Regions from separate parts of the Homo sapiens genome. Here regions 1, 2, 3 and 5 are each linked to region 4. Evidence: fine-mapped expression QTL. A gene starts in region 4. Each other region holds a variant in brackets. All regions are shown on one strand. Distances are between the middles of the regions.

Evidence for each region.
Region 1: its variant is fine-mapped to the expression of CD82 in anterior cingulate cortex (GTEx, PIP above 0.99). The same link has a PIP of 0.9 or more in cerebral cortex and prefrontal cortex.
Region 2: its variant is fine-mapped to the expression of CD82 in whole blood (INTERVAL, PIP 0.96).
Region 3: its variant is fine-mapped to the expression of CD82 in whole blood (TOPMed, PIP above 0.99).
Region 5: its variant is fine-mapped to the expression of CD82 in whole blood (INTERVAL, PIP 0.94).

Annotation. Positions count from the first base shown.
Region 1 is chr11:44,593,234-44,598,333 of GRCh38, reverse strand. CD82 (CD82 molecule) reads right to left here. Exons shown (of 10, transcript NM_002231.4): 3 at 3,609-3,691. The coding sequence starts at 3,671. Among named protein-coding and RNA genes, the nearest start is that of CD82-AS1, 9.6 kb to the left of the region's middle. RefSeq lists enhancers at 1,290-1,529, 953-1,532, 1,533-2,111. The variant C/T (reference allele first, on the strand shown) is at 2,135.
Region 2 is chr11:44,608,954-44,614,053 of GRCh38, reverse strand. The region is part of intron 6 of CD82 (CD82 molecule); the gene reads right to left. Among named protein-coding and RNA genes, the nearest start is that of CD82-AS1, 6.2 kb to the right of the region's middle. RefSeq lists silencers at 1,819-1,868, 1,939-2,018 and enhancers at 4,481-4,650, 4,654-5,100. The variant A/G (reference allele first, on the strand shown) is at 2,650.
Region 3 is chr11:44,617,074-44,622,173 of GRCh38, reverse strand. It overlaps CD82 (CD82 molecule), which reads right to left. Exons shown (of 10, transcript NM_002231.4): 8 at 3,809-4,012; 9 at 3,451-3,534; 10 at 1,816-3,125. The coding sequence ends at 3,048. Among named protein-coding and RNA genes, the nearest start is that of CD82-AS1, 14 kb to the right of the region's middle. The variant C/T (reference allele first, on the strand shown) is at 2,584.
Region 4 is chr11:44,563,054-44,568,153 of GRCh38, reverse strand. It overlaps CD82 (CD82 molecule), which reads right to left and starts at 2,491. Exons shown (of 10, transcript NM_002231.4): 1 at 2,418-2,491. RefSeq lists enhancers at 1,403-1,472, 1,978-2,478 and a silencer at 2,393-2,992.
Region 5 is chr11:44,535,723-44,540,822 of GRCh38, reverse strand. It overlaps the pseudogene RPL7AP79. Among named protein-coding and RNA genes, the nearest start is that of CD82, 27 kb to the left of the region's middle. RefSeq lists enhancers at 422-1,028, 4,877-5,100 and a silencer at 2,139-2,198. The variant T/C (reference allele first, on the strand shown) is at 2,172.

The DNA of each region.
Region 1 (5,100 bases), 30 kb before region 4:
TATCAATGTTTCCTTTTGCCCCAGGGCCCAGGTGGCTCAGTAGGGGGTTGCCTCTCTCCCTTTACCCTTGTACTTGCTACCTTAAAGACCACTGTGACTGATGACTACAACCACAAAGGCACGGTGACCACCCCACGTCTGCCCCCCAGTGTCTCCCACCAGAATCATCACTGAGGTATTATCTGTCCTCTCCTCTCTCCCAGTGAGACGGGCCTTGTAATTGACCTCATTTTATACACACGGAATTTTATATGAGGCCTTGATTTTATCCATCAGGGACTGGAAGCCAGATGGTGGCAGGTGAGCTATAGGGATATTTTGGATCCATCCTGGGCCTTCACCCAGAAAGCCAGTCTCGGGACAGAAAAGCCCCTGAGACACTGGGGAGGAGAAGAGTCTGCTGGAAGGTGGGTCCACCTTAATTTGCACAGCTGGGGGAAATGGGGGCTTTCCAGGACCTGGGAGTTTGGTTCCCCAAGACCTGCAACCCTACCCAGCCCACAACCACCCCACAGCACAGCGAGGCAGGGGCCAGTGCTCAGGCCCACGTCTGCTCCCTCTGCATCTCAGACCCATGTGGGCAGAGCCCCTGCCCCATTCCCTCCCACATTCACAGGGTGGGACAGGAGGGAGGACAGCCCCTACCAAAAGGGAATGGGAGGCAGGACAGAAAATCCCCTCTTGGCACACATAATCCCAAGTAGATCAAAACCCCACACTACTCAGCTGGCTCCTCAGCTTGCCAAGAGGAACCCAGAGAGCAAAGTCCCCGGGGCTACCCATTCAGTCCCTCTGTAGGTCTGATGACCCCAGCCTGATGGTCAGATGTGGCTGGATTAGCCACGGGGCTGTGGCAGAGCCAGAAAGGAGGCTGGGCAGCCTACCAGAATGGGCAAGGCACCATGGCACCCCCTTTTTCTCTGTGAACCAAGACTGGAGCTGTGGGGCAGGCCCCATGTTAATCACTCCCCCAGCCCTTCCCCAATCCCCAGATGGGACCCATCAGGAGCCAGGACCCTCAGAGCAGTGAGCGTCCTTCCCCAGCATAGCCACAGCACCAGTGCCTCTGCATTCCTTTGGACCTGAGAAAAGTGGCAATGCGCTGGGGAGTCTGGAGTCCAGAGGGAGTACAGGCAAAGACATACAGGTGCACATGCACGCAGGCGCGAGCACACATAGCAGCCACGGGGATTTTTCCAAACCACAAATCCAACCACGAAACCCCTCCCAATGTGCATAAAACAAAGAGGCAGGCTGGCCGGGTCTATGCCTGGGGAGGTGCACTCTGCCTCCACCGGCTGCCCCTGCTGCCAGGATCCCCCTCTCCAAAGCCACACCCAGAACCCCAGGAAGCCTTTGCTGACCTCCATGACCAGGCCAAGAGCCTCATCTGCTTTCCGAAGAGCCTATCTGTTCCTAGTACCCCCAACAACTGCAATTTTTCATGCATTTGAGTAGTTATTTGATGGAAGCCCACTGCTCCCTAGGACACAAGCTCCGGAAGTATAGCAATCAGGGCTCTTCCGCCCTGAACATCTGAAGATGCTGAGGTGTCAGATACACATTTGCTGAGGAGTAAACAAGCCCGTTCTGCCTCCTCCAGCCCTCCTCTTTCACTCTCACCCTCCTGTCATACAAGCTGCCCCTCCCCCCTCCACCATCCTGATGGGTCATCCTAGGCCCCAGTACACAGACAGTTAACACCTGACTCCTGCCAGCCCCTGGAGGAGCCAAAAGGAGGCCAAGCCCTGGCCAGAGAGCAGCTTTTCCAGTCCCTGGTTCCACAGGGCAACTTGCGAGCAGGACAGAAAGGGCCACCCTGGCTGAAACCACCAACCCCACTCCCTTTCTCTATGAGGGTCTCCCCAACCCCCACTGCATGAAGGAAAGTTTCTTTATCACTGAAACCCAAGCTCCGTGATCTCCTAGGCCAGAGCCCAGGCTCCTCTCTCTAGTCCCTAAAGCCCCCAGGGATAGAGCTACAGTGCCCACGCACCCCTTCCCCCGAGTCCTGGCCCATTGGCCTTTATGCTGGGTCTCCGCCCAGACACCAAGTGCTTGCCAGGAAAAGCTTGGCTTTGCCTGCACAGGCAGCTGCTTCCCAAAGTCCTAGGGCAGCCAGGAGAGACCTGAC[C/T]GCCAAGCTGGGGAAGCCCAAGCCCGGCCTGGGGTGGGTTCCAGGCCCGGCTGCCATGAGCAGAGGGCCAGAGCCACAGTGGGGCCTCACAGGGTCCTCCAGGAGGGAGCTAGGGCCGGGGCCAGGGTGGAAAAAAAGCAAGGCAGGCAGCGCCAGGGCTTCCTGTGTGTGTGCATGCGTGTATGAACACTTGTGTGCGGGTGCCAGGAACACATTGTACATGTCTGTGCATTGGGTTAAAGCTGTGAAGGGGGAATTTTTAAAATTCTTTTTTTTTTTTTTTTTTTTTTTGTAGAGAAACAGGGTCTTGCTATGTTGCCCAAGCTGGTCTAGAACTCCTGGACTCAAACAATCCTCCTGCCTTGGCCTCCCAAAGCACTGGGATTACAGGCAAGACCTACCATGTCTGGCCAGAAGGGGAATTTAGAATGATTCTTGTTTATTTCCCAAACTTCCCATAAACTATGTAACTTGTAATGTAAACCCCCTGTTCCCCAAACAAGTAATTAATATCTACCGTAGAAAATTGGGAAAATACAGAGATGCATAAAGAATAAAATCAAAATTCCCAAGAATCCCAACATTAACATTGAGGTATTTTCTTCTCCTCTCAAAAATACTCACTTTTTAATGAATACGTACATTTAAAACTTTGGATCATAAGAAACATCCTACTGTACAACCTGATTTTTTTTTAACACTATAGGGTTAAACCGTCAACACAGGGAAGCCAGCGCTCCCAACACTACTCTGAGGCTATGAAGTCCTCTCCAGGGCACTGCCCCCCAACAACACACTCTCACTCACACACACACCCCACCATCCCAGCAACTCCAAGGCAAGAGGCAGTCCATGCCAGGCCAGAGAGGAAAACCGAGGCCCCAGGAAAACCAGCAGTCAATGTCCACAGAGCTGACATCCGGATGGCCCATCTGCTGGGGTGGGTCTGGGGAAGGAGGTATGTGCCCTTCACTGGCCCCACGCCTGGCGCCCTCTTGCTCTCCCTATGAGAGCTCAGGGAGATACCTTCCCACGACAGGGACGGGGGTGTGATAGGGGCAACTGGGGCCTGGAACTGTCACAGGTCAATTCTTCACATGGGCAGGGTGGGGGCCAGGACAGGACTAGAGAGATGCTAAGAGGCTTCTTCTAGCAGCTCCTGCTGTTGAGTTAGGGGGATGCCCAGGGGCTCTCCTCTCCTTCCCCATACCCACCGCCAGCCCAGGCTTTGGGTGATCTAGGAGAGGGGAAGGCCGGGTCAGGAATCCAGTGCTTGGTCAAAGGACCAGCTGGGAATGGCAGGGAATCTCCTCACCACCCCAACTAGGTTCCGTTGGAGATAGTTCGTCCTCAGTCCCTACCCACCAAATCCCCCCAATCCCCGGCCCGGTCGGCTCTGGAAAGGCTCAGGCTGGGATGCCCCTGGAAGGAGAATCTTTTCGGAGGTGGTCAGGACGGCATGGGACATACTTACAAAGAAGATCAAGTTGAAGAGGAAGAGAAAGTATTTGGTGACTTTGATACAGGCTGAGCCCATCCCGCCAGTCCTGGAGCTTCCTGGAAGAGAGAAGGCAGGCAGGCCAGTGAGGGGATCAGCTCAGTCTGCCCTTGCAGCAACCCCAGGAGGTGGGTACTAACCCTGTCCCTGCCTTAGAGGATGCAGAGGCCCAGAGAGGTTAGACAACTAGCCCAAAGCCACACAGCTAGGAAATGAGGTCCCACGAGCAGTCTTGTGTGCCAGGCACTTGATGCTTGGCAGTTAGGATCCGGATCAGCCACTGCACTGGGGCTGGGGCTGGGGCTGGGGCTGGTGGGAGCAAAATGACAGAGGGAGACCCTCACCCCTCACCTCCATGACCCAGGCTCTGGAACTTGCACAGATGGACTCTGTTTGAAGTCAGGGGGCCGGGAAGTTAGTGATCCATTGACAGAGACCCAGAGGTGAGACCTGTGCTTGTTCCACAGACTCCCTCTGGGACTAGGGGCTGGGAGTTGTGGGGTCTGCCAAGGCGAGAAGGGGAATTTTGGCTTCTCAGAAAATAGGCTGAGCGTCCCAGCTTCTTATTACAAAGGGAATAAACATGCATTGTAGAACACCCAACAAATACAGAAAAACAGAAATCAAGCAAAATGTATCTCACTCCAGAGATTAAAAACTGTCATCGTTTTAGTAGCTATTATTCGTGTGTGTGTGTGTGTGTGTGTATAACAAATGGTTCTAATCAAAATTGGGCTCATTCTGTATAGTGTTTTCTAGCCTGTTTTTTTCATTCTACAATCTTCACTCTCTATATGTTGATAAAATGCTCTTCATAGTTTCACATGTTGCATAGGATTCCATCCTATTAGTACTTATTAACATTTGGGGGCTCACAGAGTCCCCCAAAAAATTCATGTGTAGTTAGCATTTTGTGATGCTAATAATTTCTGGGAGTTCATGGACCTCTGAAACCCATTCAGGAACCCCAGTGGCCCCAGGTTAAAGTCTCAGATGTGGCCATCCCATAAAAGCATTTAACTGATACTCTAAGATTGGACACACAGGTTGTTTCCAAGTTTTCACAGTCTCCCCGATGACACAAGTTGTGCTTCTGAAATGACACAAACCATGCTTGGGCATGCTGTGCCCCCTCCACTCCAAAAGACCCCAGGTGAGGGGAGGGCCCCGGGAGGAAGAGGGAAGCTGGAAGCTGACTGTTCTCACCCTGACTCAGAGGCCAGAAAATCCAGGAGTGCCAGCCGCCAGCCTTCAGACCCTTTGGGGCAAAGGGAGCCAGCACCGCCGGGCAGCTGGGGCCTGGACAGCTGGCCTGGGACAGCTGCATGGGCAGAGCTGGGCTGGGGGGGTGGAGGGGACGGCACCAGGCCCACTTGTGTTTCCCTGCCTTATGGAGGGGGAAGGGCAGGCCACAGAGCAAAGGGAAAGGAAAGCCGGAGGCCCGGGCTTCACTCCTTCTTCCTCCAGC
Region 2 (5,100 bases), 46 kb before region 4:
GCGACAGAGTAAGAGTCCATCTCAAAAAACAAAAAACAAAAACAACAACAAAAACAACAACAACAAAAAACAAAACAGAAAAGATCCTCCCTCACCCCTTCCCAAGCCCCAAGCCAGCAGTGCCAGCCAGCCGGAGTGTGAGGTCAGTTGCCTTTCTGGGACCTGGCTACTTGCCCCAGAGCTCCAAAAACATCTCACTTTTTTTTTTTTGTTTTGCTTTGTTTTGTTTTTTTGAGACAGGGTCTCCCTGTCACCCAGGCTAGAGGGCAGTGGCAGGATCTCAGTTCACTGCAACTTCTGCCTCCTGGGGTTAAGCAATCCTCTCACTTCAGCCTCCCAGGTAGCTGGGGCTACAGGCATGAGTCACCATGCCCGGCTAATTTTTGTATTTTTAGCAGGGACAGGGTCTCGCCATGTTGCCCGGGCTGGTCTCGAACTCCTGACCTCAAGTGATCCACCCAGCCCAGCCTCCCAATGTGCTGGGATTACAGGCCTGAGACACCTCGCCTGGCCCAAATCTACATCTTGCCTATGCTGGTCCTCACCCTGCTCAGGAATTAAGGGTTCCTTCTTGTGGTGGAGAGCAGCACCTGCTCTCAGCTAACCCCACAGAGAAAACACTGATTTACAAAGCAGGCAGAGAAGGGGTTTCTAAATAAGTCAGTTGTGCAAAAGGAGGCAAACCCAGAGCCCGCTGAGGGCAGGGCCTCCCTCGGCGATAAGCAGGCCTGGGTGGGAGGGGAGCCTCCGAGAGCCAGCCCCTGCCTGGCTCCACCTAGCCTCTCACATGGACCTTGCCCAGAGACCTTTCAGGGCAAATGCATGGTTGGACTGGTCAAGGCAGTGGGGGCGAGGGACCCTAGAAGGCAGGGATGCCAAGGAGAAGGCCACACACCTTCCCACCTCGGTTCCTGAGAAGGAAGAATTGGGAGAAATGAGACAGGTACTTCCAGGTGGGGTTTCAGAGCCTGACTCCCAGGGAACCCTGTTGGTGGAGCTTCCAGCAGCTCCCCATGGGCAGTCCTTGAATGAACGCTGTGCTCAGAGAACCCATATCCTGCAGATGGACCTGCAGCCCTGGCTCCTCACCCAGCTCCCTTGGTTAAATTAATGCTGGGGCTGGCCATGGTGGCTCACGTATGTAATTCCAGCACTTTGGGAGGCCAAGGTGGGCAGATTACGAGCTCAGGAGATCGAGACCATCCTGGCTAACATGGTGAAACTCCATCTCTACTAAAAAAAAATACCAAAAATTAGCTGGGTGTGAATGGCAGGTGCCTGTAGTCCCAGCTACTCGCGAGACTGAGACAGAAGAATCGCTTGAACCCGAGAGGTGGAGGTTGCAGTGAGCCGAGATCACGCCACTGCACTCCAGCCTGGGCGACAGAGCCAGACTCCATCTCAAAAAAAAAAAAAAAAAAAAAAAAAAATTAATGCTGGGAAACCAGCCTCTGATGACGCTCCCTGCCCTTCTCTCAATAAAGCTCTCAGCATGATATTTAAAAAAAAAAAAAAAAAGCCCTTATACAGAGTTCTGCAATTTACAAAGCTTTCCTGTCAGTAATTAATCCCAACACTAATAGTGGCTAACTTTTATCAAATGTTTGTTATGTACCTGGTGCTGTGGTAAGCACTTTAAATGTATTATCTCAACTGAATCTTCACAGCAGACCTATGGCCTAGGTATTCACCCCATTCCCTCATTATAGAGATGCAGAAAACAAACCCAGAGAGGTTAATTAACTTGCCCAAAGTCACACAGCCAACATGCGGAAGAAGTGAGGTTTGCACACAGGCTTGGCTGATTTCAGAACCCAGGTTTTTACCTATTAAGCTTTATTGGCATTTAAACCACACGGCTATACCCAGTTTTAACCAGGGCCCAGAAAAGCTAAGTGGTTTGCCTGAGTCACATAGCTGGGGCTGTCTGCCAGGTGATCTGACATCTCGGGTCCACCTCTCAACCCCAGTGGGTGGGTGATCCCCACGGTGTGGAAAGGAGGGGCTCTCTAGAAGCATCTGTGCGGAAAGCTGCCTCTCCCACATCCTTCCCCACCCACCCAGCTTCCTCACAACATGTTGCACTGAGGCTCTGTTTAAACCCCAGCGTGGTTGTCACAGCAGCCTGGACTTCCCTGTTTCTCTCCCAGCCTCCCTGAAATGAGAAGGTGATGGAAGCTGGGTGGTTTCCACCTAGATGGGTGGTTTCCATGGAAACACCACAACATCTTTCAGTCCAGAATGTGGTTGAGGGACACACCTGGGCCACGGGGACCATGGCCACAGGGGCTGGTTCAGCTTGGAGCTGATGCTCAGGAGGCCTGTGCTGGGAGTGCAGGGAGGTCACCCTGGCAACCAGGTAGCTACTGAGACAAAAAGGACAGGGAGGTAGCAGGAGAAGACATTCATGAGCTCCCTCCATCCCCCCAGGGACCGCTCCATTGTTTCTGCCTGCCCTGCAGAAACCCACTCCTTGGATGTAACCACCCTTCTATTTCTCCATGGAGCTGAGGAGGCCCCACTCCCTCGATGCCAGAAGCAGGCAAAAGACCTGGGCTGCCACTCAGTGCCATCCACATCACAGGCACGGCGAGTGGTTCAGAGATGGGCTTGAGACCCATGCTCACATACCCGGCCCTCTTTCCATCA[A/G]TGTGGTAGGATGAGGACCTGGGCTACCCTCAGGCTCCACTGGGGACAGCCTGCCCGAGAAGGGAGCCAACAGAGGAGGGTAGGGCTGAAGGGTGAATAGGGACAGCAGCAGCCTTTGGGATCCAGCTGAGCCTTCTGCTGGCTCTGGCTACTTTCAGTTGAGTCACTGTCACATGCCATAAAGAGTCCTGCCCAGGGCCAGCTGCATAATTTACACCTAGTGCAAAGCAAAAATGCAGGGCCCCTTGTTTAAAAATTATTAAGAATTTCAGCTGGGCGTGGTGGCTCACACGTGTAATCCCAACACTTTGGGAGGCCGAAATGGGCAGATCACTTGAGGTCAGGAGTTCGAGTTCAGTCTGGCCAACATGGTGAAACCCCATCTCTACTAAAAACACAAAAATTAGCTGGGCCTGGTGGTGTGTGCCTGTAGTCCCAGCTACTTGGGAGGCTGAGGCAGGAGGATCACCTGAGCCCAGAAAGTGGAGGTTGCAGTGGGCCGAGATCATCCCACTGCACTCCAGCCTGGGCAACAGAGCAAGACTCTATCTCAAAAAGAAAAGAAAAAAAAAAGAATTTCAATACAGCAACAGCAGATTATCCTGTGTGACTGCATAGGTTGAATGCCGAGGAAGCCAGCCCTGTCTTCCCTGTCTCCCTCCTCCCCATTTCTCAGAAGAGAAAAATGAGGCTCAGAGTTGGAGCAACTTCCCAAGATCACATAGATAGAAAGCAGCAGAGACATGACCAGACCTTGATCTGTGCAGCTCCAGGGACCCGGGATCTTAGCCTCGGCAAGCTGCCCAGGGCCTCCCCATGACCCTGCTGTCCTCTGCATGGCTCTACTCACGTCCCACCCAAATGCTGAGCTTTGACTTCTCTTTTAGTGTGAATTTTCACAGAGTCAGAGTTAGGAGAGACCTTTGCGTCCAGCAAATCATCCAAATGTAAGAGTCATGCTTTTTTAGGCTCTGCTTAAATGCTCCCTGCGATGGGGAAGTCAGTACCTCACACAATAGCATGTTGCGGAGTTGAGAGGCTCTGATACAATTTAAGTTCTGCTCAAATGACTTCTACCCACTTGTATTAGTTCACATCCTCCTCCTCTCTCAGCTACCCAAGTCCCAGCTAGGACCACAGGAACAAATCAAATCCCTCTCTCGAAGGACACATGTCATCCAGATACTTGAGACTAGACTACATCTCCAGGGTAACTTTTCGGGCTCCTGTGCCCGCCCCTTGGGGTGCTGTGCAGACCTCTTGCCATGCTCTTTAAGGTGTGAAATAGCCCCTTATAATAAGGTATAAATGCATGAATTGGACCCACATCTTCCTGTCCTCTCCAGGTTTCCCACATGAGATGTTGGCAAATGCTTTGCTAGAATACAGATACACCAGCTCAGAGGCTGCATCCCAGTACCCTGATAGGAAATGAGGGCGCTTCCTGCATCTTTTCTGCAAGTCCAGCTGCAATCCACGTAATTAGCTACCCCAGAATGCAGAGCCAGTGACCAGCGTGTGCTTCAGAGATTCTAGCCCAAGTGTCTTTCCATAATCCCTTTCCAGAGGGGTAGCCTGGACTCCTCCATTCCCTTCTCAACAGGGGAGAGAAAGGTCACCTCTCCCTGTCCCAGGCTCCAGCTGCTCTTCCTCCCTCTGCCCCATCGCAAGAGAACCCCAAGCCAGAGAATCAGGAAGTTCTAATTCAGCAAGCAGACAGTTCACAGAGAACCACACTGTCCCCTAGGAACCCGTCTCGCCACCTGTGTCTCACACATGAGGGTATGTGCGCACCAACAATTTGGGGCTTTCAGGGTGAGAGCAAGGAGGACAAGAAGGAAGTCACAGTTCCCCTGACCAACATCTCTGGGGAGTTGTCTGGCCAGCCACTGCCACTGTCACAGCCCCCACCTCTGGCTCCCAGCCAGGCCAAGTGAGCCCCTTCCCCTCCAATGTCTTCTGCTTGAGCGTGACAGCACTCAGAGCCTCAGGGGCCTCCCTGGCACAGGTATGGCCTGCCAAGTGCACCCAGCTCAGCACCCACACACCACAGGAAAGGGCAAACTGCATTCACTTCCTTCTCACTCCTCCCACCTCCACTCTCTAGAGAGAACAAGTCAGAATCCCTGACTGCCTGCACTGGGCATGGCCCAAGAGCTCGCCTGTGGATCAGAGAGTCTGGGTAACTTATCCGAAGCCACACAGCAATCAGCGGCAGAGCCCACACTAAAACACAGGGCCCCTGAATCCCAGGGCTGGGCTCTGCTCACCAGAGGCTGGATAAACAAGCAGATGAGGATCTTAGCACCGTGCCCAGATCCCCATTCCCGCAGCCCTTGCTCTGCTGACAACGAGGGCAGCAGGAACAGCTGCCACCTATTGAGCCCTTACCAGGCCTTCATGAAGTGAATAATGGCGGCAATAATAATAAACACTGGCAATGATGCCAGC
Region 3 (5,100 bases), 54 kb before region 4:
TGGGTGCTCCCCAGGAGGTTGAAATGAGGAACCCAGCAGGCTCAGAGCTCACAGTGACCAGATTTCACAAAAGCGAGGGTCAGAGCCTCACACTACACACGTCCTGGGGCTGTTCTGGGAAATCTGGAAGGGCAGGAGCCAGTGGAGCCAGGAGGATGGTCTTTGAAGTCAGATACGTGGGGTTCAAATCCTGGCTCTGGCCCCTTCCAGCTGTGAGCTCTGGGCAGGATGGACGTGTCAGAGGAAGCAGCCCACCCCTTCGCTAACTTCTGACGTTTTCTCAGTCCTCTATTTTGCAAACAGCTTTGAGCCCACCCTCAGCCTGCCAGGCCCCGTGTCGCACAGGAAGATGGAGATGCAGCTGGACTCAAACTCAGGTCCCCTTGCTCCCAGTGAGAAAGCATTTATGAAAAGACACCCAACAGCTCTCTGCTACCCTTCCTGAGGGTGGAAGCTGTGGGGGGCCAGGGAAGTCAGGCCAGGTGGAACCATCGACATTTTCCTCTCCTGCCCCCATCCCAGAGGGAGGCGACCAAGGCCACAGAGGGACCCACAGCCGACCCCACCGCTGACACCTCCTCAGCTGCCACATTCGCTGAGAGGTCATCACGTGGCTTGGGACAGACATTACTCCAGGTCTGAAAATCTTCCGGAATCAACGCAAAGGGGTGCAAATAGGCAGATTCCTTGTCCCCACCCTAGATCTGCAGCGCCAGAATCCTTGAGCCTTGGAATCTGCATTTTCACAAGTGCTTCCACTGGAGTGGGACGCTGGCAGGCCCCGCGTTGGCGAAACTGGGAGTAACCACGGAACCTTTGGGCTCTGCCGGGCTCCTAGGCTGAGGCTGCAGCGCCGCCTGGTGGTCCCTGCTGAAACACCACTCTAGCCGCCGCCCCGCCTGGCCCCACTGCAGGGAGGCAAGAGTTCCCCTCCCCACTGGCTCCAGAAATGAGAGAAGGTGGGGCAAGTGCCCTCTGGACTTCATGACGCCGGGCAAGGGGCATGCTGGGGCTCAGTCGTCAGAGCCGTGCACAAGTAAGAGCAAGCTTCTTTTTCTTTTTCTCTCTCTCTCTCTGTCGTTTTCTTTTTCTTCCTTTCTTCTTTTTTGACAGATTCTCGCTCTGTTGCCCAGGCTGAAGTGCAGTGGCACAATCTTGGCTCACTGCAACCTCCATCCCCCGGGTTCAAGCAATTCTCCTTTCTCAGCCTCCTGAGTAGCTGGCATTACAGGCGTGCACCACCACACTCGGCTAATTTCTGTATTTTTTGGAGAGATGGGGTTTCACCATGTTGGCCAGGTTGGACTCGAACTCCTGACCTCAAGTGATCCACCTGCCTCAGCCTCCCAAAGTCTCACATTTCATCTTAAAAAGTCCCCTGAATTCTGCACATCTTACTCCATCACATTTCTTTAGTATGAAAATGTTTCCTTCCACAAATCTTTGCAGAAACGGATGCTCTAGAAAGCGATGCCAAGTTTATCCTGTGGCTTCCCTGTCCCCCATCACCAGCCCACTTTTGTGCAGCTTCTGGGGGCACCCATACCCTAGTTTCAGAAGCAGGAATTGAGAGGTACAATCTATACCTCTCTTAGCACCAAATCAAACTCCAGGCACCCCGGCATGCAGGCAGGCCCATCAGAGCCTGGCCCATCACGGTCCTAAGGTTCAGGCTGCAGAAGCAGATGCCTGCGGGGAGGGCAGAGCAGTGAGGGGTCCAGCAGTCTCCAGCAGACCCAGCCACTCTGCTCACACCCTCTGCCCTGGGTCCTCCCCTGCCCCAGGAAGCAGCATCCCTACCATTCCAGACTAGACTGTTATAAATCCTCTTTAATAGTCTTAGAATCTTGAGTGTGTTTTACAGAATGGTGCACACAAAGCCCCCTCCCCTCTCCCCCTACAAGGCACAGCCTCACCCACCCCACTCCCCAGGGGCCAGAGGACCGCTTGCCAAGAAAGGCCAGCCCACCTTCTCCCAGGAGAAGCCATCCTCCTCCTCCCCGCCCCTGGCCAGCTCCGGACCCTGGAGAATACAGGACCAGCTCTGTGCCATGCCCCCAAGGACTCACCTGTCCCTAAGCAGCTCAGGGCCAAGCCAGATCCCCTTACCCAGGCAGACCCCCTCCAGCCCAGCTCCCCTAGGCCGTGTCCCTAGGGCATGGCCTAGGCTAATCTGAGCTGTCTAGATGGACCTGCATCAGGCCTGGGGAAGGGGTGCCACCCCTTAATATCAGGTAAAACCCACCCTCTCCCCTCTCCCACTGCCTTCAATATAATTGTGAAAAATAAAGATATAAATGTCATAGTGGGAAATAAGTTGACCCACCCAGTAGGCAGTCTCCTGACAGCCCAGAGTGCCTTATCTAACGCCCTTCCCTCCCCAATTTTTTTTTTTTTTTTTTTTTTTTTTGAGACGGAGTCTCTTTCTGTCCCCCAGGCTGGAGTGCAGTAGCACGATCTCAGCTCACTGCAACCTCCGCTCCCGGGTTCACACCATTCTCCTGCCTCAGCCTCCCAAGTAGCTGGGACTACAGGTGCCCGCCACCGCGCCCGGCTAAATTTTTTTTGTATTTTTAGTAGAGA[C/T]GGGGTTTCACCATGTTAGCCAGGATGGTCTCGATCTCCTGACCTCGTGATCCACCCGCCTCGGCCTCCCAAAGTGCTGGGATTACAGGCGTGAGCCACCGCGCCCGGCCCCCTCCTCCCCAATTTTTCATACAGTTGCCCCTATACAATATACACACCCTTGAGGGCAGGTAGAAGTCCAGCCCACCTGCGCCAGGGACGCTGTGGGGAGCATTTTTCTCTGAGTTGCTAAGAGAACCCTGATGGGCGGTGAGCAGAGGAACCACAGAACAGCCAGGGCTCAAGGCTGGCAGCGGATAGGCCAGGAGAGATCGCTAGGCCCCAGAAAGCCCCCTACTTTCAGTCAGGATGGGCAAGAGGGTCTTCGCAGTGAAGTGGGAGGCAGGCCTGGAGGAGGGAGCCAGGGAGACCCCTGGGAGCCCTGAGGTTGGGGGCCAGGCAGGGAGATGGGGATAGCAGCTGCCTCAGTACTTGGGGACCTTGCTGTAGTCTTCGGAATGGACGTGCCGGCACAAGCAGATGGACAGGACCATCCCCAGGAGCTGTGGGGAGAGGCGGAGAGTCAGAGGGAGGCTGGGTGTCCCGGCCTCAGACGCCCCAGCCTCACCATCCAGGTTTACATGGGGATTAAGTGGATCCTCAACTTGAGCCTCACAACCACCCTGTGATGCAGGCAGCAGAGGGAGGCCCAGAGCGGGGCAGTGCCTTGTCTGAGGTCACACAGCCAGACAGTGCTCAGACCAGAGGGCCTCTGGAAGCTGATGGGGTGCTGGCCCCCTTGGCCACCACCTCCCCAAGGAGATCAGCAGAACAGAGACAACCCAGGAGGACCTGGGATGGAGAAGGGATGGGGGAGGGGGCTCAGACCTCGATGATGGCCACACCCACGCCCACGCCGAGGATGATGCCCAGGTTCTCCTGCAGCCACGCCTGCACCTTCTCCATGCAGCCCTGCAAGGGCAGAATGCGGTCACATCACCCCGCTCTGCACCATCCCACCCCGCCATGCAGAACCACCGAGAGCCCCCCAGTCCCAGCCCGGAAGCCCCTACAGAGGGCTCTGCCTGTTCCTTGAATAAATACATTAACAAAGAAGTAGATGAAGGTACAAATGACAGATGAATTAAGGGAAGGAACTAAATGCAGGAAGGAATTGCTGAGCAGTAGCCCAGATGGCCCCCAACGCCCTCGGAGCCCCGCCCCCGATCCGCAGCCCCCCGCACACCTCCTGGTACACAGGCCAGTCCTCAGGGTGGTTGCCACTCTGGGTCCTGTTGCCGGGGGCCTCGCAGAAGCCCTTCCTCACAGAAAGGCTGTTGTCCTCTTCCCCCTTGACTTCGCAGGAACAGGGGTAGGTGACCTCAGGGCGATTCATGAGCTCAGCGTTGTCTGTCCAGTTGTAGAAGCTGACCCAGCCGCAGCACTTCACCTGGGCAAGGCAGGGGACAGACTGCTTGTGCTCACGGCTCACCCTAGGCAGGCTGCCCTCCTGGCAGAGGGAGGACCTCCCCAGGACAGAGACTGAGATATGCCACTTCCAGGCCCCTGGTCCCAGCCGAACCATCATAAACTACAAGTACAGCAGAAAAATCAAAACCAGGACCAGCAAAAATACAAAGCAGAGTAGGAAGGAAGTTCAAGTTGAAGGAGCGCAGGTGTGCAGGGCACAAGGAGAATGGACGGCAGACAGTTCACAGTGCAGGGTTTAAAGTCAGGCTACTGGGTTACAATCCCAGCCCTGCCGCCTACCAGCTGAGCAACCTCCATCAAGGAACTAGCCTCAGTTTCCTCATCTGTAAATGGGGATAATTAAAATCCCCAACTCACAGGGCTATCACAAGGACTAAATGGGATGAGGCAGGCAAAGTACCAAGCATAGGTGTGGGGAGCACAATAAGCTTAGGAAAGGCCGTTCAACTTTAGTGCAGGAGTTGAGATTTGCCTCTGAGCTTCCTGGTGAAAAGGAAAAAAAGTGAAAAGTGAAAAAGGAGACGGGGTCAATTCCGCCTTTTTTTTTTTTTTTTTTTTTTCTGAGACAGAGTCTTGCTCAGTCACCCAGGCTGGAGTGCAGCAGCGTGATCTTGGCTCACTGCAACCTCCACCTCCAGGGTTCAAACGATTCTCCTGCTTCAGCCTCCTGAGTAGCTGGGATTACAGGCACTCGCCATCACGCCCGGCTAATGTTTGTATTTTTAGTAGAGACGGGGTTTCACCATGTTGGCCAGGCTGGTCTTGACCTCCTGACCTCAAGTGATCCGCCCGCCTCGGCCTCCCAAAGTGCTGGGATTACAGGTGTGAGCCACCTTGGCTAGCTGGTCAATTCTGCCATTTTAAAGGAGAAAATGCTCTAGTTCTAGAGAGAAGAAAGCCTTTCCGGGCTCTGTGTGCTAAAGGAGGTCTCTGTGTGTGAATCCCCGCAATGCTGGGGGTTCCTGGGAGGATTCAATGGGATAGCCACGGTCACAGCAGGGGTCAGTTCCTGGACCGCTTCCTTCCTAGCTCCGAGGGGTGTCGCCT
Region 4 (5,100 bases):
ACAGACTGACTTTCCTAAAGTGCTGCTCTGTTGTGTCACTCCTCTCCTCAGAAACCTTCAGTGGCTCCCACTTTCTGCAAATCAGATCCAAAGTTCTTATCCTGTCATTCAAGGCCCTCCGTAAGCTGATCCCACCTACTATTCCCACTGCATATCCCCACACGTTCCCAAACTTCAGCCAGAATGAGCAACCTAGAGGTTTCTCGAGAATTCTCAGGACAGGTTGACCTCCCTGCCTCTGCCTAGGCATTTTCCTCTCCTCAAGACACTATCTTCATTCTGGCTGCCGAAATCTTCCCAGTCTGTAAGGCCCTGAAGATCCCTCTAATCCTTTTTTCATTTATCTTCCATCAGAGTCCCTGGTATTCTTGTGTAAGCCCCTTCCCGGATGGTAAGCAACCTGAGGGTGCAGGCCTTATGTGGTCGCTTGTCATTCATCGAGCAGGAAGTGGGGGTGGTGGTGGGGAGGGCTTTCCATTAAGGCTCACTAGGTAGGCTCTGTTGAAATGAACGTCTCCTCCTCCCCACCTCAGGCACCACCTACCAGACCCTCTCCCTCCCCACCATACCAAACTCCAATTTATGCCACTTCAGTGCTTGAAGAGACTGTGGTCCCATGTTGATCCAAGCCAAACCAGGACCAGGAGCCCAGAGAGAAAGTCCTATTCAAGTCTCACCCCCTCCAGGAAGCCTCCTTACCCCCACCCCCTGCCCTGGCTTCTCAAGTGTCTCACTCTTCTGAACACCTCCCCCTGCCCTACATACACACACAGTCTCCTGCACACAGCGCAGCCGCCAGTCCGTCTCTGTCCCACAGCACTTTCCAGTTTGTTCCATACTGTACAGCTTATCTCCCAGAAGATGCAGGGAGCCAATATAATGCAGCACCTTCAGCGTCCTTCAGTGTCCAACCCTGCTTAGATATCGGGTGCCCACATTGCCCCTCGCCCCCATCCCAAGCCAAGTGTGCAATGGTATAGCTGGATTCCAGCCACCAGGGCAGAACAGACCCATGAAATCTCATCTGGTTATAAGCCCTGGGTGTGACTGATCCTCTCTACAGGGACATGGTAGGGATGGGGGAGCCCTCATTGTCAGCAACTCAGGCCTGGCTAGTTCACCTCTGTATCCTCTAGCTCTCTCTAGCATATAGTAGGTGCTCAGTAAACATTTTTAGACTTATTTAACTCAACACTTACCAACCTCAAGCAACATTACAGAAAACTCAGCCACTCTTTGTTCCAGATGACACAGTCCTCATCCCTCAAATAGAGTGATGTTGGTGGCAGGTGGCAATTTCTGGCTTTCACAAGGTCAGGAGGGGCTGTAGCCAACCCCATCTCTCCAAGAAAAAAAAAAGGCTCATTCCCCATAGGAAGCAAGCCCATCACCTGCCCACCCGCATCAAAGCAGCTGTCACAGAGGGAGGTCTCACTGGTTTCCTGGCACCTTGCTAAGTAGTGTATACACATTATTCTATTTAGTGCTTGCTCCTGCTATTGGATATTGTCATTATCCCCATTTTACAGGTGAGGAAACTGAAGTTTGGAGGGGGAATGGAATCCAAATCAGTTTGATCCCAAAGCCCAAGCCTTGACCACAGAACTATGCTGCCCCGCTACTGGGGCCCAGCACAGAGCACCCACCACCTCCAGGAACAGAACCCGTCAGCCAAGAAATTAACCCCGGGTATGCTTCAAGGGCCCCTGGGGCCCTGGGCTTGACCCTGGGCCCAAGGATTGGTGGGGTTTTCCCTTCTCTTCCCCACTCACCAGTGTAAGAACTGTTCCCCAGTTTCCAACCTCCTGCTCAGGCCAGCTCACCTGGAAAAGCCCCACTGAGTTTCCAACTTGAAGTCTTAGGGGGTCCGGCTCAGTTGAACTGTTAGAATTGGTGGGAAGCAGGTGAGGCGGGAAATGGAACCTCCCTGCTTTGGCCTCCTCTTCCCCAGGGTTGGTGGGTTCGAGCCCCAACCGAGGAAACAGTGCACTCTTTAAAGCAATTCGCTTCTCTCAGTCCCATTTTGCAGGGAGAGAAACTGCAGAGGGCAACGCGATGGGAACACCTGTGGCGACCTGCAGCCTGCTCTCACCTGCCAGCTCTCACCTTCCGGCGTTTTAAGTGAGAAAGGGCAACGGGAGCGTGGAATTCACCTGGTTCACTTCCTCCTGCTGGAACCCGGGAGGTCCAGAGCCAGGTAGAGGGACGGACCCAGGATCACGCAGCTGTGCACGGCCGAGTGTGAGAACTGGGGGTTCAGGACTGGTGGCTAAAGCTCCTTTTCACCCACCAGCTGCCCCGACCTGTCACTAGTTCCGAGGAAAGTTGTCCGAGCCGGACCGCAGAAGCGGGGGCTAAAACTAACTTTGCCTATGGTTGTCCGGCAGGCTACCCCGGCCCGCTGCCCCCTTGCTCACCTGCGGGTTCTGCTTTCTGCTCCGCGCTGCAGGCCCAGCGTCACCCGCTCGTGCCTCAGTCGGCGTCGGACTGCACAGCCCGGGGCTCAGTCACTCCTCGGCCCCCTCCCGGCTGCAGCCGGGGAACGCCGCGGACTCGGCAGGCCCCGCCCCCAGAAGACACGCCCCCTCCGCCGGCCCCGCCCCCGAGCCCTTTGGGAAGGCGGTGCGCTCCCGCCGGCCAGGCCCCGCCCACTATGGCCGTACCCCAACCAGCCTCGCCCCCGGGCCCAGCTGGAGCTGAGGCCCCGCCCCGCTACGGAGTCTCTCCTCTATCCCGGCAGCCCCGCCCCCAGGTTACACTGGGGATTAAGCCCGCCCCGCTCCAGCCCTGTCCACTCACGGCGCTGCCTAACGGTCCCGCCCAGCTCCCGCCTACCTCGTCCTCCCGGTCTCCTCCCGGGCCCTCCCAGCGCCCCCGCCTCCTTCACTTTCTCCTTCGAGCCCACCCCATCCCCCGGCCCTAGTAGGGTGAGGCCACGCCCCTCCCCGCACCAGCCTGGGCTCAGCGCCTTCCTAATCCTGCCCTGCCCTGCCCCTCTCATCTCGGGCGGGTAGCCCTGGGGCCCCCACGCTGGCATTCCAGGGCGGGTGTATCCGGGTGCCGCCGGGGAACGGCGTGGGAGCGGTTTGTGTCCTAAGTCGGGGCCTCTATCAGGAGGCGGCCTGGGCCCAGGAACTTTTTGAAAATACTGACTACCATTGATTGAATCCTTGCCAGGGGCCAGGCTCTATGCCAAGCGCTGAATACAGTTCTAGCCCTTGAATTCCCACAACTCATGGGTACTCTCGTTGCGCCTATTTTACTAATGCGCAGTTTAAGGCTCAGAGAAGGGAAGTCGAGGGCTCTGAATCTCATGGAGGCGGGCGTGAGCGGGATCCAGCCTCAGGTCCTGAGTCACAGGCTTGAGCTGCCCCAGCTTGCCTGGACTGGCCCCTGGGGAAGTAGCCCAGAACAACCAGTGCTGGGGCAGTGCCCAGCAGCTGCCTGAGGTGAGGGAGGAGGTGTGGGTTGATGAGAATAGTGGCAGGAGGGGCTGTGGGCCTAAGCCCTCAAAGCTGGCTTTCTCCCTGAAGAAAAAGTGGCCCAAAATTGAGGTGGGCTGCAAGAGCTCTCTAGGTGGCTGCGGTGCCCACCCTGCGTCCCAGCCCTCTGCCCTCCCAGGCTCCAGAGGACTAGCCTCAGGCAGATTACCTGGTTAATGACCAGGGGCATTCACCTGTGCAGCTGACAAAGCTCTTTCACTTCCATTATCACAATGTCCTCTCACAACACACCGTTGTGGGAGGGTATGATTATGAGCGCTTTGTACGAGTGGAGTAAGGGCGGGAGCTGGATCCCAGCCCAGCACTGTAGTTCTCACAGCGTGGTCCTTGAACCAGGAGCAACATCATCTGGGAACTTGTTAGGAGTGCGTATTTTGAAGCCCCATCCCAACTTACTGAATGGAAAACTGTGGGACAATTGGTTTTAATAAGGCCTCCAGGTGATTCTGAATCACATTCAAGCATGAACCACTGTTGAGCAAACTGTAAAGAAGTCAGGGTGGTCTGAGAATCACACAGACCTAGGTAGCTTCCTGGTTGCGTTTTAAACCCAGGACAAGGCAAGATACTTAACCTCTGGGATGAGCCCTTAAACAGGGAATAATAATAAAATGAGCCATAACAATCATACCGATCTTGATGGTAGCTGTTGAAGATTACATGTGACAGCATTCATAAAGTATTTGGCCCACCGCTTGAATGCCGTACATGCTCAGAAAATGTTCTCTTTTCAGCAAAAAGTCTCCTTCATAGCATTCCCACACCAAGTCAGAAAAGTGAGGCTGGAGAATCCTTTAAACCCAGCAGTGTGTCATACCCGCAGAGAGACACCCTCTATCCTGCAAGTGGTTAAGATCCTAACAAGCTCCTAGATGATGTGGATGCTGGTCCGGGGACCACACTTTGAGAACCACTGTGCCATTCTGTCTTGGGCTGGGTTTCAGATCCCTACCCTACCCAGCCCATGCAAAATGGGCATAAAATTCCTCCTATTCCACCCTACTCCACACCCCGCTCCCTCCGAGCTGGGGGTGTTTGTGATGGTGTATGGCAGATGCTCCTGACAGCAATAACTTGACTTAAGCATACCCTGAGAATGGTCCTGTATGGCAGATGCACCCCAATGTGTGTTTGGAGTTTTGAGCTAAGGAATCCGGGAATGACCAACCTGGAGATTCATTCCTTATCTGTGAGGAACATTTGAACCCCGGCCCATCCTGTGGAATGCAGGGTGTACAGGGGTTCAAAGCTCTTTGTTTGGGGCCAAATGAAGGTTATCAGGTGGGGGTTGTTAGGGGGAGGGTGCTAAGTGAGAGTGATGTATAAACTGCATGCTTTTTGTAAGCGGTTGTGGCTCTCCTGCCCAGCCTGCCATGGGACTGTACAGTTCTCCTGTCCAGCCCACTGCCACCGGCCGTCCCTGTGTGTAAGTTTCCCAATAAAACCCCATGTCCCAGTTGCTGGCTCTGGTCTCTCCTTCAGCCTCTTGAACCTAGTACCATCCCTACTGAAGTTAATAGGGCTCCAGCAGACAGATGGGAACTGGCCATTGGCAAAACAGCTGGATCCCCTCACTGTCCCCTCCCCCCATGAAGAC
Region 5 (5,100 bases), 27 kb after region 4:
CCCTCTACTCCCTCCCCAGTTCACCTCCCAAATCTGATCACAGCTTCTGGTTTGAGTTCCTTGCTCCACCCCTAGAGTAACCATTGCAACACATAAATCTATTTTCTTCTGCTCCTCCACCTTCCCAAGATGCCAAGAGGAAAGAAGCGCAGGGGGAAGAAAGTGGCCCCGGCCCCTGCTGTCATGGAGAAGCAGGAGACCAAGAAAGTGGTGAATCCCCTCTGTTAAGAAAAGGCCTAAGAATTTTGGCACTGGACATCCAGCCCAAAAGTGACCTCAGCCGCTTTGTGAAATGGCCCTGCTATATCAGGTTGCAGCGGCAGAGAGCCATCCTCTATAAGTGGCTGAAAGTGCCCCCTGTGATTAACCAGTTCACCCAGGACCTGGACCACCAGCTACTCAGCTGCCTAAGCTGACCCACAAATACAGACCAGAGACAAAGCAAGAGTAGAAGCAGAGGCTGTTGGCCCAGGCTGAGAAGAAAGCTGACAGCAAAGGGGACATCCTCACTAAGAGACTACCTGTCCTTCAAGCAGGAGTCAACACCGTTACCCCTTGGTGGAGAACAAGAAGGCTCAGCCAGTGATGACTGCATGTGAACAGACGTTTGGTTGCCAGCCTGCTGCTTCCCGCAGAGAAGAGTGTGCATGCTAGGCCGATCACCTCTCAGCAGGTAGCTTGGAGACAATGGGCCTAACCATTTTGAGTAGCACTTGACATGACGAGGATCCCATCGAGCTTGTTGTCTTCCTGCCTGCCCTGCATTGTAAAATGTGGGTCTCTGATTGCATTATCAAGGGGAAGGCAAGACTGGAACGTCCAGTCCACAGGAAGACCTGCACCACTGTTGCCTTCACACAGGTTAACTCAGAAGACAAAGGAGTTTTGATGAAGCTGGTGGAAGCTGTCAGGACTAATTACAACGACAGATATGATGATATCCGTCGTCACTGGGGAGGCAATATCCTGGGTCCCAAATCTATGGCTTGCATTGCCAAGTTGGAAAAGGCAAAGGTTAAAGAACTTGCCACTTAACTGGGTTAAATGTACACTTTCATTTTCTGTACATAAAAATCATTAAAATGATACAAATTCTCCTTCAAAAAGAATTTTCCCTCTTCCCTGCTTAAGACCTATCGATGTCATGCATGCACTGATTTCCACACTGGGGTCGGCAGCTTTTGATGGTTCCTTAGGAATCCAGAGGAGGTGGGGGATGGGCAGAGCAAGTGTGGTTCCTAACTTCACATCCCCCCAACCCCTACTGCCAGAGAAGCCTTACTTGTACCAGGTGTACAGAGAGGCAGTCCCATAACCTTGAGATGAAGGTCAAGGCTTCAAAGCCAGGCGGCCTGCATTCAAAACCTGACTCTGCATCTTTCAAGCTTCATGACCCTGGCCAGGTTACTCGCATTCTTTGATCATTAGTCTCCTCATCTGTAAAGCGAAGCTAATGTTGTACCTGCCTCCTAAGGGTTGTTGGGAGGAATAAATGAGTTCATTCAAATAAGGCGCTCAGGACCATGCCTAGCACACAGTAAGTGCTCGCTAAGTGTTGGCTACTATTGTCAATTACTTTTTTTGATTTTGCTTTTGGTTTTCTTGGTGACAGGGTCTCACTCTGTCACCCAGGCTGGGGTGCAGTGGCGCAATCTCAGCTCACTGCAGCTTTGACCTCCAAGGCTCAAACAATCCTCCCACCTCAGCCTCTGGAGTAGCTGGGACCATAAGTGCATGCCACCACACTCCGCCAACTTTTGTATTTTTGGTCGAGACGCAGTTTCGCTGTGTTGCCAGGCTGGTCTCAAACTCCTGAGCTCCAGCAATCCTTCTGCCTTGGCCTCCCAAAGTGTCGGGATTACAGGTGTGAGTCACTGCACCTGGCCTATTAACTACATTTTCACACAGGAATTTATTTCCACTGATTAAAAGCGGGGAAAAAGTGAAAACCATTGGTTTTCATACTTTACATTGCAATTATTGCTATGCACCTTCTATATTTGGCTGGGAATCTCTTGTGGGGTAAAGACCAGGTTTCATTCAGTGTCTCTGACACCTTGGAGATGCTGCATCTAGCAGGCCTTCAATAAACACCCATCAAGGGAGAAAGGAAGCCAGGCAGTGAATGCGCCCCTGGCCTTAGCATGTCGTGCTCACTTATCTCCAGCAGG[T/C]GTCGCCCTTGTCTCTGAAACGGCCGTCTGGGCCCTGCTCACTGCTGTCCAGGCCCACTGACGGTCCGATGAGACCTGAGGACGCCGTGGGACCAGCAGATCCGAGTTGTTCTGCGTCGGGGAGGAAGGAGGCCCTGGGAGAGGTGCGAAAAACCTCACCAGAGCAGGCCACAGGCTGCTTGGAGCCTCCAGGCTTGAGTTCTACTCCCAGCGGGGGACACCAGGAGCGCCCATTTCCTCTCTGAGCCTTGGTTTCCTCCCCTCCAAAGCGGGGGCAATCCTGCTACGACGGGACATCGGGATGTTGTCAGGCCACACCTGACAGTTGATAGGCGTTGGATTTGCGGTTTTGTTTCTTTGTTTTTAAGTTGCACCTCCCAGGGAAGTCCAGGGGCATCTCCAGACTTCCCCAACACACGGATTCTGCCTCTCTGAGGGACGGCGAAATGAAAAACTCAGCAGCCTGGAATTCTGAGAAGGGAGAAACCAGGAGTGAAGAACACATGGAGCTGCGTAGGTTCCTACGGAAGATGCCAGGAGAGCCAGTGGTCCAGGGAGACCACACCTTGGACACACTCTTCTGCGCTGGCATGAGCACATCCGGGTAGGCTGCAGGTCTCTTTTCCTCAGAGGCAGACGCGCTGGAGTTACATGGATAGGGAGATGGAGGTGGCGCTCCTCTGTCACCGCAGTCCCCTCAGCCTCCTTGGCTGTGGCTCAAGCAAGTCCCTTCCCCTCTCTGGGCCTTTCTCTCTGTCAAATGGGGCTGGCCTGAGTCGGGCATTTTCAGGCTTAGCAGTAGAGGCCTGACTCTGCCACACCCAGTGGGGAAGACAGACACGGAGGCAGACAAAGAAAGCCGTTGGAGCCTAGGATGACAGGACAAGGACCTCACTCCCTTGGCCACCCCTCCACTGTGGTGATCCTAAGTGGCTCAAACCATGGGCTAGCTCTCCAAGGCTCTTTTTTTGAGAGGGAGTCTCACTCGGTCACCCAGGCTGGAGTGCAGTAGCGTGATCTCGGCTTACTGCAACCTCCGCCTCCTGAGTTCAAGCAATTCTCCTGCCTCAGCCTCCTGAGTAGCTGGGACTACAGGGATGCGCCACCACACCCGGCTATGGATTTTTTGTATTTTTAGTGGAGATGGGGTTTCTCCATGTTGGTCAGGCTGGTCTCGAACTCCTGACCTGGTGATCCACCCGCCTTGGCCTCCCAAAGTGCTGGGATTATAGGCGTGAGCCACCGCACCCGGACCTACAAGGCTCTTTCTAAGCACAAGTCTTCATGACACTGCAGTCCTCTTCCCGGTTCACCTCAGCTGTCCTCCCACAGGCCTCGCCCCACATCCCTAGGCCTCCAGGGATGTCCTATCTCCCTGACCTCTCCCCACACTCACAGGCCCAGGGAATGTGAGGTTTGGAAGGGGGCCCACGGAGGGGGCTGCCGGCTTCATCTATCACCGGGATGGATGGGGAAACTGGTCCAAGGTCCCATAACTCCCAGGGCAGAGCTAGGTCCTCCCTGACAATCTGCACCCCACCTCTGACCCTCAGACAGAGCCTCTCTCCAGGCCTGCATGAAAGCGGGCCAGATGTTCGTGGGTGCTGGGCTTAGTGTCAGGGCCAGCGGGAGGCTGGCCCGCCCCACAAGGTCGCCGCCCTTGCACTTCCCCTCCCAGCAGCTAATTAGCTCCAGGCCAGGTCCACCAGAGCTCCCAGGATGCTCCTGAGCTGGGACCTCACCCCGCCTGCTGAGGTCACAGCCCCCCCTGCCCGCCCTTGCTTCTCTTCCAGGCTCATCTCTCGCCCCTCAGACACCCTCCTCCTTCGCTCCCCTTTCATTCCACAGAAGAGGGGCAAGAAGCTCCGAGTCGAGATCACACAGCAACACAGAGGCAGAGCCCGGAGGAGACCTGCCCCAGTTCTCAGCCCAGCGCACCCACCCTTCCCACCCGCGGATGGTAACCCGCAGGGTGGGTGACGGTTCTACTCCTGTCTCCACCACCTCCCAGCTGCGTGACCTTGAGAAAATTACTTCCCCTTTGTGACCCTCAGTCTCTTCATCCCTAACAGGGATAATAACAGTCGTTGATGATAGGAATATAATCATCAACAATATTAAATGTCCTCAACACGTGAATATTAAATGAGATAAAATGTATAAGCACCCAGCACCTTACATACATATTGCTAGATCCTTTCTTTTCTCTCTCTATCTCTTTTTTTTTTTTTTTTTTTTGAGACGGAGTCTTGCTCTTGTTGCCCAGGCTGGAGTGCAGTGGCATGACCTCGGCTCACTGCAACTTCTGCCTCTCGGGCTCAAGCAATTCTCCTGCCTCAGCCTCCTGAGTAGCTGGGACTACAGGCACCCGCCACCATGCCTGGCTAATTTTGTGCGTTTTTGGTAGAGACGGGGTTTCACCATGTTGGCCAGGCTGGTTTCGAACTCCTGACCTCAAGTGATCTGCCTACCTTGGTCTCCCAAAGTGCTGGGATTACAGGTCATCCCGGAGCTTTCCTGAGTCCTTGTGGGCTGCCCCTCCTCCCTCTTCTGCATCATAACATTCTCTGGCTGAGCTTTTCCTGCAGGCCTCATCACTTGCTCCCTGTGTCCAGCTCGGGGCCAGACACAGGTGGTGTCCATCTCCCACTCCCATCTCTGCCTGTCCTCACTACATCATGTCCCTCCTGAACCAAACTCCTTCTCCAACTCACTGGCCAAGGAAAATAATAATAATGACCACAACAGCATTTATTATGAAAGCTAACATGTATTGAGGACTGACAATCCAGTCCCTATTCTAAGCACTTTTTTGTATTAGCTCATTTAATCTGTCCCCATTTTACAGATGGGGAAACCGAGGCACAGAAAGATTTAAGCAGTTAGCCCAAGGTCATACAGTTGGGACACAGTAAAGCCAGCCTTCAGC